2 separate regions of the Homo sapiens genome follow, and region 2 is linked to region 1. Evidence: fine-mapped expression QTL. Tissue or cell type: subcutaneous fat. Region 1 holds a variant in brackets; the other region holds the start of a gene. All regions are shown on one strand. Distances are between the middles of the regions.

Region 1 (8,378 bases):
GCCTTCTAATATGGATGCAAACATAACATGTCCCAAATAAGATCCTTGATTTCTGCATCCTAAACTGCTCTCCCCTGATGTAGTTTGTTATCTCTGCCCTTAAAAAAAACAAAACACACTGTGTAATTTGAACAACAGAAATTAATTTTCTCACAGTTCTGGAGGCTCACATTCCATGATCAAGGTGTTAACAGGTTCATTTCTTCTAAGATGTCTCTTCTTGGATTTGACTTGGTTAATTTAGTTTTTTGTCTTCAAACACCTTGATCATTTACTTTCTGAAAAACTTTCACAGTCTATAAGGTCTTTTTTCAAATTTTAGACTTATATATGTTAGTTCTGAAATTTCTATTTTATTATTTTCTATAGTTCCTTTTTCTGCTGAGAAGCTTTTTCCCATTTATTTTGAGAGTGTTCACATTTACCTCAGAAAAGTTGGCTATAAGAGCTGCTTTAAAGTCTGATCATTTCCATATCCAAGTTGTTTCAAGGTTGTCGTATCTTGATTATACCCTTCATTAACAGTTGGTCAATTGTTTACGGTTTGTAAAAGTATATTGAGTAATTTTCAATTTTATGCCTCACATGGGCATTTTTCTGTGTTTACAATACACAAAAAGTTCAACAAGGCAAGCTTTGGACATTGAAGGGTGGAGGCACTCAGGCTGCATCGTGATCCACCCACTGGCTCCACTGGCAGAAGAGTTAATCCCACTGACGTTATTCTGCTTGAAGCTTCTATGTGGATGATTCTCCTTGGCTCTTATGAGATAAGAGTGTAAGTATTTCACATAATACACACTTATAAAATTAAAAACACAGAAAAGTGTGCTGAATGGGTCCCAAGGGCCTTATCCACAATGTCTTCCTAACTTTTCATGTTTTGTACCCCATTTTCTCAAAGCTCAATTGAACTCAAGGACTTCTTTTTTCTTTTCCTCTACAAGAACCACAGAGTTTAACATTGGCTTCTTAGAGGCTATCCCAGTAGCCAGGCAGCCCTGCTCTCTTCTGATGGGGATTTACAGAATGCAGGAAAATGAGGCTGAGGTAGAAAGAGTGACTATACACCCAGCATGCTGGCTCATGACTGTAATCCCACTACTTTTGGAGGCTGAGATTGGAGGATTGTTGATGTCAGGAATTCAAGATCAGCCTGAACAATATAGCAAGATCTCCCCATGTATACAACAAAATTTACAAAATCAACCTCGCATGGCGATTGGCACTTGTAGTGCCATCTAATTCAGAGGGTGATCTGGAAGAATTGCTTGATCCCAGGAGTTCAAGACTGCAGTGAGCCATGATTGCACCACTGTACTCCAGCTTAAGTGAGAGAACAAGTCCCTGTCTCTAAAAAGAAATAATAATACTAATAATAACAATAATAATAATAAATGACTACTGCAACTGAAAAGCTTTTTTCCCCCCACCTTGGCTTCTAGCCCCAGGGTCTACCTCGTTTAAACACAACTCCAGTGTCTATGGATTCAACAGACTTGCAGTCTCTTCCTTTCTTTCCCCTTATATGCCACTGTAGCTCTTTCCTGTATCCTCAGCACACCTTCCCCTACTCTGACAGAATCAAGTACAATGGTGAATTGAGCAAGTATAGGCAATAGAGCTATAAATACTTATGTTTCTACCCTCCTTGATATTTTTGCAAGATTTGGAGATGAGTACGTAGGGCCTTTAGTCCTTTTTGAGCCAGGTCATCTCAGGCCCAGCCCGAATCCTTAAAGGAACTGAGATCCGAGTAGAGGAAAAGAAGTGATAAGAGAGATGTGAACAAAGTGTCTTCATGCAAGTAAGTAAGACACATTTACTGTCTAATTCAAGCATTGTAGTCACAGCCTAAGACTCAACTGAATAAACACGTGAATTTTAAGTCTCCCCAAAGGTGTGCAACAGCTTTGGGGCATCTTTAACCCTTTACCTCCTGTTGTCTTTGGAATAGAGCAAAAACTAAAGTGTTACATGGGAAGTTTCCTTCAATTCTACCACCTGGTACTCAGTTTACAACCATTTCCCAATCCTACTTGTTAATGAGCTATATAAAAAGACACAAATTATTGACCACTTGTCATACATTTTGGTCAACATGCCAGCTATTGATATGTATTTTTTACATTATTAACTGAAGGAAAATGGATGCCTTTTACAAATGTTATAAGATTACAAAACAAAAAAAAATGAAAGAAACCAAATTAGGGTTGTAATATGTCCAAAATTGTTTTCTTCCAGTTGGTTCTTGGTCTCGCTGACTTCAAGAATGAAGCTGCGGATGCTTGCAGTGAGTGTTACAGTTCTTAAAGATGATGTGTCCATAGTTTGTTCCTTCAGATGTGCAGATGTGTCTGGAGTTTCTTCCTTCCAGTGGGTTCTTGTTCTCACTGACTTCAGGGGTGAGGCTGCAGACCTTTTCAGTGAGTGTTACAGCTCTTAAAGCTGTGTCCAAAGTTGTTTGTTCCTCCTAGTGGGTTGATGGTCTCACTGACTTCAGGAATGAAGCCGCAGACCCTCTCGTGGGTGTTACAGCTCATGAAGGTAGTGCAGACCCAAAGACTGAGCAGCAGCAAGATTTGTTGTGAAGGGCAAAAGAACAAAGCTTCCACAGCATGGAAGGGGACCCAAACAAGTTACCACTGCTGGCTCAGTTGGCCAGCTTTTATTCCCTTATTTGGCCCTGCCCACATCCCGATGATTGGTATATTTTGCAGAGTGCTGATTGGTCCATTTTGCAGAGTGCTGATTTGTCCATTTTACAGGCTGCTGATTGGTGCGTTTGCAATCTTTTAGTTAGACACAGAGTGCTGATTGGTTCATTTTTACAGAGTGCTGATTTGTGCATTCACAATCCTTTAGCTAGACAGAGAGCACTGATTGGAGCATTTTTATAGAGTGCTGATTGGTGCATGTACAATCCTTTAGCTAGACACAGAGGGCTCATGGGTGCATTGTTACAGAGTGTGGATTGGTGCATTTACAGTCCTTTAACTAGACCCAGAGCACTGATTGGTGCATTTACAATCATCTAGCTAGTCAGAAAAGTTCTCCAAGTCCACAGTGGACCCAGGAAGTCCACCTGGCATCACTTCTCAGTAATGTGAAAGCCTAATGATTTACCATGAGAACTCTCATATAATTGCCCTGTTTGATAAGAGAAATGAGCAGGAGGAAGGTTGTGGTGAAGGACTCTGCTGAAGCTTTCCCAGGGATTCATCTAGTAAAGCTTTGACTTTCTCAAAATATTCTCAGAATAAGGAGATACTGTCATTCTCCAGAAAGTCAACCAGCAAAATGACTTGAGCTTTCCAATAAACTCTTGCCAAGATCTTTGTGCTCTCCTCATCCACTTTTGTTTTGACTGGACATTTCCGCCTCTTGGTAGCCATTGCTTTGATTGTATTTGTTTTCTGGATTTTACTGGTAAAGTCATGTGTTATCTCCTCTTATAATTCATTGAAGAAATGCTTATGGTCTTCGTTCTTCCTATTTAAATTTTTAGGGAAAGTTCTGCTCTTGTCTGTACTTGATCTTGGTGACACAGTTTGGGCATCCATTAAGTGAAAAGCTTACTAAACTTTAATCATTCAGTTAGATTCATGTAAACTGAACCAACTGAGAAGTCTGCAGTGTTGGTTATTGTGTGAGCTGCTAATCATCACACCTCTTCTCCTGGGTATAAAGAAGATGAATTTATTCCTTGCAATATGATGTGAATCATCTGT[C/T]ACGATAAGCTTTAGGTTCAACATTGCCTCATTCCTTCTTGAAATGAACTCCTCATTGAATTTGTGAACTGCTGACTTCTTCAACCAATGTCAACTTACCACGTGTCAAGTAGGACAACTCTTTGGACACCATCAATGATTTTGCCTTCCTCCACCCAAGCTTCACCATAAATTTGATGTTTATACTCACTTTAATTTTAGAAAAATTCATGTTGGTCTTCTAGGGGCTCTTTTGAAACTGCTCTTATTTTTCTTGATGCCTCATACTAGCTCCTGTTCAGACATGTTATAGCAAAAGATTATGATTTCATTTTGGTGCCAAAACATTGGAATCCATTCATGGTGTTTCTTAATAGGATATACCTTTTCCTTCAACATTTGAACAACCCACTGCATATAGGAAGGCATCCTGATACAATAAGCTCTACTAGAGGTAACTTAGAATTTTGCAGCTGACTAGGCAGATTGCTGTCTTGTTTTTCTCTTAGGATAAATAGGGATGTTTTCTGAAGATGGAATATAATACCAGTGGCCAAATATTCTCCAGTTACATAGAAAGTTTAACATTTGTAACTGAGATTCACATTCTTTCAGAGAGACACAGAGTGCTTGGGCCAATCTGGTGTCCTGATGTTATTGAATGATTTTCTCTGGTTTCACCAAACATTGTTTGAAAAGGAAGCTGTTGATGGGCAGTCTGGCCTAGGTAGCTTATGGTGGCCCATCAGGAAGGAAAGAAACGCAAGAGAGAAGAAGCAGAGGGGAGAGCCAGGCAGATGTGACTCCTTGTGGGAATCAGTGGGGAAGCTGCAGTCCTGGTTAGAGACAGACTTCTCCTTGTCTGCTGAGTACAGCAAGGCAAGAGGTGATCCTTCCAAATATCACTCAACTCATGCCCTGACCTTCTCCTATGTCAGAAATGAGTGAAAGAGATTAGCATATCAGGAAGGACTAAATATCAGATATCAAGCTACCAGAGACAAGCAAAATAGAGGTTACCAAAGAACTGATGGAGACAGTGTCACTGATTTAGGATGGGGTAAAAGCAAGGAGCAAGATGGCAACAAAAGCTTAGGCATTTGTCCATGAGTCAAGGACGTCAGCAATCCACTTGCCATTTAAAATAATGTAACCATACCGTTTACATTACACTCCTGCACTAAGCAGGACTCTTAATTTCTGCCTCCTAAAACCTGCTCTCCCCTGAATTTCTTCATTATACCTGTCCAAGCAAAATATCACAGACTAATATTCTTAAGCAACAGAAATTATTTTCCGACACTTCTGGATGCTCAAGTTCCACGGTGAATGTGTCAGCAGGTCCAGTTCTTCTTGGCCCTGTCTACTTGGCATCTAGATATCACCTTCTTGCTGTGTCCTCCCATGGGGCTGCGTCTGTGCCTACGTACTTCTTGTGTCTCTCTGTGTGCAAATTTCCAGTTCTTATAAGGAATTTCCACTTTTTCTAAGGACATTCATCTTATTGGATTTAGTTCCACTGAAACTCCCTCATTTTAGCTTGATCACCTCTTCTTAGGGCTATTTTCTGAACACAATCATATTCTAAGGAACAAGAGGTAGGTTGGCTGTGGAGTTTTGTATACCTATGCCTATCATATTTCGCTAAATATTTGATTATATAGAGGTTATGTCTTTAGAACTTTGAGCTATGTGCAGACAACACAAACCTGGCCATTCATGGCTGACAGAAGGTTGGCCCTCAGCCCGGTCGGACCCACACAGATTGTCCAATATTCCTTGGATCTGGCTCCGATCAGAAAAGTCTCGGTGTTTTAGGATACAGGTGTCTTAACGAATTCTATTATTAATATTCGTGGAGAGGTTAAAACAAAGTTGGACACAAAATCTACCAGAGGTTTCTAGAAATGAACAGAATGAATAGAAGTTCTTGAATGAGCCATCCTACTTCATGTCTTTAAGAATTTTTTCTTGCTCTTCCCCTTTATTAGAATGTTTGATCAGATACAGTTTGGACTTTATGTCTTACAAGATTATATATATATAAATATAGGCTCTCGCTCTGTCACCCAAGCTGGAGGGTGGTGTCCTGATCATGGATTCCAGCATCCTAGAACTCCTGTGCTCTTGGGATTCCCCCCACTTCAACCACTTGAGTAGCTTGAATTACAGGTTCATGACACCCACCATGCCCGTTTATTATTTTTTAATTTATTTAAAAATTTTTTGAAGAGATGGATCCACAATTTGTTGCTCAGGCTGGTCTTAAACTCCTGGCCTCAAGGGATCCATCCAACTCACCCTCCCAAAGTCCTGGGATAACAGACATGAGTCACTACATTCAGTTATTCTTCTAGGAAAAATTTTTAATCACTCCCACTTACAATGAGTGGCCACAATTATATATCCCAATAAGATAGTCAGGAACCCACATAAAAGCCTCAAGGGTATTGCACTGATCTATTTCTTAGTACATGTGCTGTCTCCCAGATTCTTCTTCCAAACAGAAATTTTTTTTATTTTTGCAATATTCTGAAACTAATTTCTCAAGACTCGCTTTCTAAAATGTATTTGTTGACATTTTCTGTTCTAAATAATCTTCCCTGTGTTTATTTTTCATCTTATGTCTGGCTTCTTTATAAATACATTTTGGGAATTTTCTTAAATCGACTCTTCTAAGTAAGCATCTATAATTCTTCTTACTCCTTTCATTTTATGTTTGTTTTTAAAATTTGGATCAATATACTGTATTTCCAAAGTATTTTTACTGAGTTTGTGTTGGTAGCTCTCTTTTCATCCACTGACTTCTCTGTTATATCAAGTAGTTTCTGCCCATCATTTCATCTTTTTATGGAAAATGCAGGTTAGTCAGTATTAACAGCTGCCACTTATCATTTCAGGCCTCGAATAACTTTTGTGACATCATTCAGTTTTGGCTCAGGGATAGTGATAACTTCAGGATACCTCGTTAAAGGCATTGTGTGTGGGTCTGCCACTGGAAATCCTAAACACAGGCCACTTGATCATTTTGATGAGAGGATCCTGTGTTGTACACATTAGAATCTGATCCTGCTCTTCCAGATGGGTTTGAAATACAAGGGATTTCAAAAACTTTGTGGAAGAATGCAATTACAATATGAAATTAGACATTATATAAACTTTATTTCTTAACATAACCTCCACCACATTCAAGAAGGTTTGCAAGTAATGATACAAATAATTTAGCCTATCTATAAAGAATTGAGGGTCCTGAGAATTTCACCATATAAATGCAGTCTTTTCAAATTATTAACTGAAGAAAACAGCATACACATTAAAGTATTTTTATCTTAGAAAAAAAACAAGTCTGAGGAACAGCTCCAGTCTACAGCTCCCAGCGTGAGCGATGCAGAAGACAAATGATTTCTGCATTTCCAACTGAGGTAACAGGTTAGTCTCACTGGGGATTGTCAGACAGTGGGGGCAGGACAGTGGGTGCAGCCCACCAAGCATGAGCTGAAGCAGGGCAAGGCATTGCCTCACCCGGGAAGTGCAAGGGGTCAGGGAATTCCCTTTCCTAGCCAAGGAAAGGGGTGATGGATGGCACCTGGATTATCAGGTCACTCACACCCTAATACTGTGCTTTTCCAATGGTCTTAGCAAACAGCACACCAGGAGGTTGTATCCCACACCTGGCTCACAGGGTCCTATGCCCATGGAACCTTGCTCATTGCTAGCAAAGCAGTCTGAGATCAAACTGCCAGGCAGCAGTGAGGCTGGGGGAGGAGCTCCCACCATTGCCAAGGCTTGAGTAGGTAAACAAAGCGGCCAGGAAGCTCGAACTGGGTGGAGCCCACCGCAACTCAAGGAAGCCTGCCTGTCTCTGTAGACCCCACCTCTGGGGGCAGGGCATAGCCAAACAAAAGGCAGCAGAAACCTCTGCAGACTTAAATGTTCATGTCTGACAGCTTTGAAAAGAGTAGTGGTTCTCCCAGCATGCAGCTTGAGATCTGAGAACATACAGACTGCCTCCTCAAGTGGGTCCCTGACCCCCAAGTAGCCTAACTGGGAGGCATCTCCCAGTAGGGGCAAGCTGACACCTCACATAGCCAGGTACTCCTCTGAGACAAAACTTCCAGAGGAAGGATCAGGCAGCAACATTTGCTGTCCACCAATATCCGCTGTTCTGCAGCCTCCACTGCTGATACCCAAGTAAACACGGTCTGGAGTGGACCTCCAGCAAACTCCAACAGACCTGCAGCTGAGGGTCCTGACTGTTAGAAGGAAAACTAACAAACAGAAATGACATACACACCAAAACCCCATCCGTACGTCACCATCGTTAAAGACCAAAGGTAGATAAAACCACAAAAATGGGGAAAAAACAGAGCACAAAAAATAAAAATTCTAAATATCAGAGTGCCTCTCCTCCTCCAAAGGAATGGAGTGCCTTGCCACCAGTGGAACAAAGCTGGACAGAGAATGACTTTGAAGAGTTGAGAGAAGAGGGCTTCAGACAATGAAACTACTCCAAGCTAAAGGAGGAAGTTCAAACCCAAGGCAAAGAAGATAAAACCTTGAAAAAAGATGAGATAAATGGCTAACTAGAATAATCAATGCAGAGAAGTCCTTAAAGGACCTGATGCAGCTGAAAACCATGGCAGGAGAACTACATGATGAATGCACAAG
Region 2 (8,378 bases), 380 kb before region 1:
TCACTGAGAAAACATGGTTTCTGGTTCTTTGTATGAGGCGTTTGATTTGGTGAATGCTTTTTAATCTACATCGATTGGGAGAGAAAATCAAAATGATTTGTTTTGGTGAGGTAAGAACAAAAGCACTGCTTCACTGTTTTATGTCATGGCTACGTCACTTCTGTTTTCAGTTTAATTGGCATTTTGCAAAACATCATGCTAACTCAATATATTAATAATATTGCATTAACTGTTACCCATAAGCAGGAAGTGATGAGTTTCTCAAATATAGTAAAATACCATAACATTGAACAGAACTAAATACCAGAAGAAGAAAGATGAACAAGAAGATTCAGTGACCTATAACATAGATGATGATTTTAGGGGTCCAGTGCTCCTAGTCCACATGCTGAAACACCCTTTTAAAGTAAACAGCATGTTGCTCTCTATACATCTATTTCCTGTCACTAAAAATGAGACACAATATTTGTTGGGCCTACTGGGATTTGGGAGCCAACGTATTCCACATTTGAGGATACTGCTCTGATTCACTAATGAAGTTGCCAAAGGCTACTGGTCTCAAGTGGAACTAGAACAAAAAATGCCTCTAGCAAATGTAGGCTCTAGTCCAAGCTGCTGTGCTCATTGTGACAGATAATCCAGCAGAATTCAAACCCGCTAGAGGCATGCATGCATAGTGGGCATTATAAGACTCTGTGCATGCTTCTCACAAGCCCACAGGAGAGGGGAGAGCAAACCCCTAGCCAATTAGTGCAAGACCATTCCCTCTTTAGCAGAGGAGTGCCCTCTGTCTCAAAAACAAAACAGCAGGTGCAGAAAATTAACCCATGTATAAAGCCCTTCTAAGCGTGTGCGTCTCTAAGCACAAGACCCTGTGCAACAGTGGAAATTATATGCTCATAGTCAGCCATGATTGGAGGGCATGAGCACATCTGAATGGCACAAGGAGTGGACTGCATGGGACACAAACATGTGCTTCCTCAGATTTACTTGACTGTCTCCTATTCCCCTGGTCAGCACCTTGCCTGACCCACATCACCCTTCCATTTGGGACTTGAATGGATCACCACATTGTGGGCATGAGGTCTGACTTTCATAACCTCCATCAAGGGATTGGATGATGGAAAGCAGAACAGCAGAGATGGTAGTTCTGCCTCAGGGAAACCCTGGCCAGTGGGAAATAGAAGACAGAAGACAGCTGAGCAGATATATTCTCCGTCCTCTGTTGCTTCCATGGGCTAATGCTGGCTGTGTTGTCCTCTCGCAGCCCTTCTGAAAAAGTCCTGGGAGCCAAGTGCATGCATCTGATAACCACCATGCTGTCTCTCTCACATCATTGTGAAGTGGTCGTCAGCAGAGTCATATCACACATTACAGCACATAGTGTCACATCTTCTCTTGACTCAATTTCCACATGTCCCAGCCATTTCTGCAGTGGACCTCCTTCCAAATAAATGTCATCACTTTAATATCAGACATTTGCTCTACTTCTAGACCCCTGATAAGATATTCATTCAGTGTTATAATTATTATTCATTCATTTTTCCATCAGTTTATAATATGGTGATTAAAGTGGTCATTTAGAAAGGATATTAAAAATACTAAATAAAGATTATATTTTAGTAAGATAGTTGGTAACTAAATTTTTTAAATGAAATGTCATTTTTGTTTATATAATAACCAGCTAGAAATACCACAATATAAATATATCATTCGCAATAGAAAAGATATGTGCACTTATACAAAAATCTTTTATATGCTTAGTAAAAAGTATTGTAATAAATGCCATCTTTTTATTTTCCACTTTGTCTTTGTGTCACACATCTGATATAGCTGCATCACTGCTATATTATAGTGATATTTCCCCTAGAATTGTGGAATAGCCAAACTTTTGCTCTGAGAAATTCTTCTTCTTCTTGGATAATCCTGTAACTTCAATCTGAAACCAGAACAGAAATGTGCACCCAACTGTAGATTTTGTGATGTGTTACATTTTCATTGGTTCACCACCCCAATATAGTTCATATTCATTCATTCACCAATTAACTTGTTCATCAAAGTATCATTTTTCAATACCTATTCTATGTGCTATCTTTATGTCTTGGGAGTCTACAGTAAGCAAGATCTATATGATCTCTACTTTTATGGTATTTACATTGTACCAGGTAAGATATATGATAAACAAACAAATCAGATGTGGAGATGATTTATCTTAAGGTTTAGATAATATTGTTAAAATTGCATAACACCAGAAATTAATACAGTCACACAGAATTTAGCTGTTGAACTAGGTTATACATTTTCTTCTTGTAATAGAACTTGCTATTAGTGAATATGTCAACACACTTTCTCTCATTTCATTATTTACACCAAGATTATAATAAAACATATCTTTAAGACATTTCCTATCATTAATATATAGATTTCATAGATGCCATAGTTTCTATACCCTCTTTAGATTGAGCTTCTTTTTAAAGTAAGGAAAATTTGAGCTTTTTGAGGAATTTTAAGGATGGAAGATAAAGGAGGAAATTGACAATTCAGGAGCTCAGAGGTGGCTTAGACAAAAAACTGAAATATATAACATCAGATCTCAACTTCAAAAAGGTTTTTGTTTAATTCAAAAACTGGAAGAGATGACTTTTCTAATTGCGTATGGAAACTTATAACAGCACTGAAAAGAGCTCATGATCATGTTTCTTCATCCTTTTTATAGAAATGATTTTTTCTAAGCTATTAACATACTATATTAAATATAATATTCCTCAGTATTGCTTTTGATACACATAAAAATGTACACTAGATATATTTTTCACCCTTGAATTTTATTTTGTGCATTGTTATCTAACAATAATTGTATTTGCTTTATATTAAACATAAAATAAGAATTCATCATGAATGTCTATAATCCCAGCACTTTGGGAGGCTGAGGCAGTGGATCACTTGAGGTCAAGAGTTCGAGACCAGCCTGGCCAGCATGGTGAAACCCCATCTCTACTAAAAAAAAAAAGAAAAATACAAAAAATTAGCCACGTGTGGTAGCGCATGCCTGGAGTCCCAGCCACTCAGGAGGCTGACGCATGGAAATCACTTGAACCCCAGAGGTGAACGTTGTGGTGAGCCAAGATTGTGCTACTGCATTCCAGCCTGGACAACAGGGCAAGACTCCATCTCAAAAAAAAGAAAAAAAGAATTCATGATTAAAAAAAAAACAAAAAAACCTACCCCAAAGACACATTCTCATCGATTTAGAATTAAATGTCCTTACCATCCAAAAAATTAGAGGTTCAAACAATGATAGTTAAACAGTTAAACACACTATGGTACATATACGTGATACAAATTACAACGAAAAACAGCAATGATTTTACAACGAAAAACAGCAATGATTTTCTGATATAAGCTGTCAGTTCTTAATTATAAATAGAGATCATAAATTCCTCAAATGAAATATCATATAAAAAAATGTGTGAAATACACATGGGTTCATAATTCTGAGAAATTTCTTATCCTACTTTGGTATAACTGAACAGTTTATATGAAAAGTTGATTAAAGGTATGTTATGGTAAATATTAAATTTTCATATACATTCAGACATACACACACACGCAAATGTATATTATATATATATACTTTTATATAATAAACTTAGGTAAAAGACTTTTCTATGTCAACTTTTGGAAATTACTCAAATACATAGACTACGGAAAAACTTGTGGGAAATATAAAATGTTCCAGACACCATCAATTTGTTTTCTGCTAGAAAACACACAATGCACCTCTTGTGAATCTATGGAGTTGACTGGTTCTGTCCTTTTGCCCAGCAAGTCACCTGCCACAAAACTGAAAGAAAGGTCTGCTTTAGCGTCTTGTTCCCCCAAATCAGAATGAATGAGTGGAATGATGGATATATGATTCCAAAAGCTTGGCAAAGCATTAAGACAATTTCTTTTGGTCGCATCTTAAAATTCCAAAACGATATGATTAGACACAGAAAGTAAATGGCAAGTAATATGAGGAAGGAGGTCACAGTTTGCAGAGCTTTTATGTGGATCTTGGTGCTGGGATCTTGAGATCCTTTGCCATGGAGCTGCATCTTCTTCAGATGTTTACACAGAGAGTAGATTAACAGCAGAAAAGATATCAGGGTCAGAGTGAATGGTATCAAGTTTGCTAGCATGGCTACAGTCAAGTTGGAAAGGTGCATTGCATTCCTCAGTTTGATCTTCCAAGTTACGTTTCCTTCACATTCTTCTGTCCACACATTTATATACGTGTGTTTCATCACAAGGTGACAAACCAAAAAGAACAAAGACCCCAACACTATCACCAGAACTACACTCTTAGCCTTCCTTTTTAAGTGATGAAAAATAAGTCTGGAGAAATTGACGATCTTGAGCAAATAAAATATGCTGAGGCTAGTAGCAAGCCAGATGCTGAAATGATTGGTTACTGCCCAGGCATTAGAAATAAAAATTATTACTTTTAAATTAGATGAAGTTGGATTCAACACAGTTGAATACCAATGTAATAATATTACCCAGAGCAAACCAACTCTGGAGACTGCCAGAGCAGCAATAATTTGATCAGCTGAGGAGATCTTTTGTCTCTTGACCCAGGCAATGAAATTTATCAGTGCTATAAAGCCATTGGCAAAATTTCCAAGAATAAATGCAACCACTACTAGAATGGAAAAAACAATGTGTAGAAAACTCATCATGTCTAAACAAAAAAGCAAGTAAAAAATTCAGGCCTAATGTCACTGATGGTGACTCCTCTGATATTCAAGACTTTAAGTTAAATATGCACTTGATTCCTGAATGTCCAATAACATTCTTTATACTTTTAAATTCTGTGAACAATGTCAACAGAAAAGCACCAGCTTAAACTAATGAATGAGTTCAATGCTGCCTTTATGGGAAATACTGTTAGTCCCAAAACAACTCAAATTAATTCTTATTCATAAAGTCTCTATTCTTGCTATAGGCTGAAATTTTTCATACTGATGTTGAAGGGAAAGCTGAATTCTCATTTGCTAGCATTCAAATAAAGACATATCCTCTTTCATTGCTTTGCAATTTTTTCCTTGTTTCACCTTTCCATAATTTGTGTTCAGCCCTTCAGTTGTTGGGGAAATTTTAATACCCAGTACATAGATGACACAAAAAATATATTGTTAAAAGAGCCTGGTGAAATCTAGGATCAAAATCACTATGGATTTATTTTTAAAGCCAGATTTAAATACACAGAATCTAAACTTTTTATCAAAATCACCTAAGATTTTCTTGGAAACCACAGGAAAGCCAATACTCCTTATAATTTGGTTGCTGTTAACCAATACTTCTATATGGCATCACTATTAACAAGCTCATAAACACACACACAGACACACACACACTTTCACTCTTCAAGGATGGAAGGAATTGCTTTCTTGTAACTTATGACATGGAAAATGAGTTTCCAGGAGCTCGTCCTGGTGGAATTAGTCCTATTTTTCCCATGCCAGATTTTCAGCCAATGAATAATATTCATGAAACATATCTCTCATGCTTAGGCTTTTGGTAATGCTACCTGCAAGCTTGTAAACATTCCTGAGTACCAGACCTTTGTCACATAATTTTGCAGTGTCCTCCCACCACAGGCATAGTGACAACCTTGCACTAGGGCTCTGAGTTCGATCATGTAATTTGCTTTGATGAACAGAAAATTACTACACTTTACATCGAAATTTGAGATGACCTCCACATTAGGCTTTCTTGTTCCTTTCCGGTTTATAATGAGAACATGTCCACACTAACACACTGTTCCCAGAATAAGAATGAGTAACTCATGGAATCATATGGCTCCTGCCTGATCCAGCCTTAAATCGGCCAAACTCTAACTAGATCCAAGAGGCAAAACTTGGACCATCTCAAATCACCAGAGCCATCCACCAAACCCCAGCTTAAGAAAACAGAATCCAAAAACATGTGAGATATAAATATCTAATGTGGTTTTGGAGAAGTTTCTTTTGCAGAAAAAGCTAAGTGATATAGGTACTCTGCTAATCCAAGAGTTTGAGAAATATGTGCGCCCTTGTTGTGTCAGAAATTCAGGAGCCAAAGGAAAAATAGGTTGGAAATATCAAAGTTTTTGTAATATGAGGTGAATATCTAAAACTAGAAGAAAACTTTTGGAAAGATCTGGAGGCTGTAGGTAACAGCATCTCAAATTTCTCCATTTTGCAACTAAAATAAGAATTCACTTTAGCTCTCTTGAGTTGTATAAGAATGTACGTAAATGGTGGATTTTCCCCCTAGGTATATAATGAGCAGAGCAATTAATAATTTTTACGTGACATTTCTCCCAATTTGTAATTTTTTAAATAAAATTATAATGCACACTTAGAAATGGGCCAAAACAAAAATAGGTAAGAGCAATGTATCATAAACACTTATGTAACCATCATGCAGGATAAGACATGGAACACTGCAAACAGACTAGGTCCACTTCCAGGCCACTTTCCAAGCCCCTAAACCTTTATTCACATCTCCTGAGATAAGCAATATTCATAATCTATGATGATCATTTGCTTGAATTTCTTTATACTTTACCAGCTAGGTTCACAACCCTAAACTCCACAGCTTGGTCTGTCCTGCTTTGAACTGTGTATAGGTGCAGTCCTGTGTGTTCTTCTTGTTCATGGCTTCTTGCACTAGATATCATGTTTCTGAAATTTAGTTACATAGTTGCATGTACATGTGATTCATTTCTTTTCACCTCTATATACTGTTCCACTGTATGGATTTACTGTAATCTTTCATATCATTCAATCATCCTTAGTTAATATATATTTGGGCAGTCTATTTTTGAGCTATTATGAATAATACTACTATCAGCATTATTTCACATATCATTTGATGCAATTCCTATTATGGGGTCATTAAATGTGGTGTTCAAATTATCCTCACAGACATAGAAAAGTGCAAAAAATAATTTATCTAAATTTGTTCCTGTCACCTTTACCTCCAGTCTCTTTATCGCTATTTGCATATATCTTATCAATAATATATTTAACTCAGCAAGACGCTATTATTTTATTCAGTCAACATTCATTTAGAATTATGCACATATTTATCATTTCTGTTAATTTTTATTCCTTCTTGCATGCTTAACCTTGTATTTTCAATATTTTTTATCTGAAAAATATCATTTGGATTTCTGTTTATGAAGGTCCTCTATTCTTTTGAAACACACTAAAGACATGATTCCATTGAATTCTACTTTCCATTTTTCTGTTGAAAATCAGGTTGTCATTTAGAAAGTTGTTCCTTTTAAAATAATCTATCTTTTCCTCTGGCTACTTTTCAGATTTTCTACTGGTCTTTGATGTCTTGTGACATTTTATGTTAATTTGTTTTTAGTTATCTTGTCTGACCTTTGATGGTTACTAAAAATATATGGATTAATACATTTTATCACTTTTGGGAAAATCTCCACAACATTGATTCTGCCCTATTTTATCCCTTTTAATCTTCCAGAAATCCAGAAGTATGTTAGATGCTCTGATTGTAGCATCAATGCCTCTTATCCTCTTAGCTTGGCATTCTTTGTCTTGTGGTCTCTTTAGGCTTCTTTCTTTATAGTTGTCTTCCAATTCACTAATTCTCTCTTCTATGTCTAACTGGTTGTTAACTCTGTCTATTGGATTCTCAATATTGATTATTTATTTTTTGCTATTATTGTTTTAGTAGCAGAAATTATATTTTGTTCTCCTTCTATAAATCATTATCTATGGAGAAGCAGAACAAAGCACTCTTACCACCAAGTTTTTTAAAAAAAGTTGGGTTCTTTGTTCAGTTGGTTGGCTTTGTTTTTTTGTTTTTCGTATGCTTGACATGAAAATGCTAACAATTTTCTTCTTTTCCCAAGACTTTGGTCACAAAATAGAATAAAAGCTTGGTCTACACATCCTTCCGCAAGTTGGAAGAACCTGGAAATTGATGTGATGTTAGTAGCTTTTTTTTTTAGGGGGGGATAGCAGCTTGTCTGTTGATGAGTCTTCACCACAAACTCTCCCCACAGGGAAATTCAATGAGCTGTGCTGGATCTCAAGATGCCATTCCAATAAATAAATTATAGCACCTCAACCCTAGCTACACCATTCTATTTTACAAATTAAATTTTACTCTTTTTTTATTAGCAGAAGTGGAGCTCTGTACCTTCAAACTTCTTCACTATCAGGTGAGATATAGAAGATGTGAGGGCTTACTTCTATTTGATTTATTTAGTCCTAAAATTCTCACTTTAGATGTGCCAGCAACCTGTGTGGGCTGATGACTTGGGGCAGGATGGGAGAATGCCAGGGGATAGATGCACAAAGGACTGGACACCTCCT

The links. PIP is the estimated chance that this variant, and not a neighbour inherited with it, causes the effect.
Region 2: it holds the start of TAS2R20, and the variant in region 1 is fine-mapped to the expression of TAS2R20 in subcutaneous fat (FUSION, PIP 0.95).

What each region holds. Positions count from the first base shown.
Region 1 is chr12:11,370,134-11,378,511 of GRCh38, forward strand. No RefSeq gene overlaps it. Among named protein-coding and RNA genes, the nearest start is that of PRB2, 21 kb to the right of the region's middle. The variant C/T (reference allele first, on the strand shown) is at 3,732.
Region 2 is chr12:10,993,155-11,001,532 of GRCh38, forward strand. TAS2R20 (taste 2 receptor member 20) reads right to left here and starts at 5,150. Exons shown (of 1, transcript NM_176889.4): 1 at 2,807-5,150. The coding sequence starts at 4,721. The coding sequence ends at 3,792. All of the region lies in intron 3 of PRH1-TAS2R14 (PRH1-TAS2R14 readthrough), which reads right to left. All of the region lies in intron 3 of PRH1-PRR4 (PRH1-PRR4 readthrough), which reads right to left. It also overlaps a transcript of PRH1 not described here.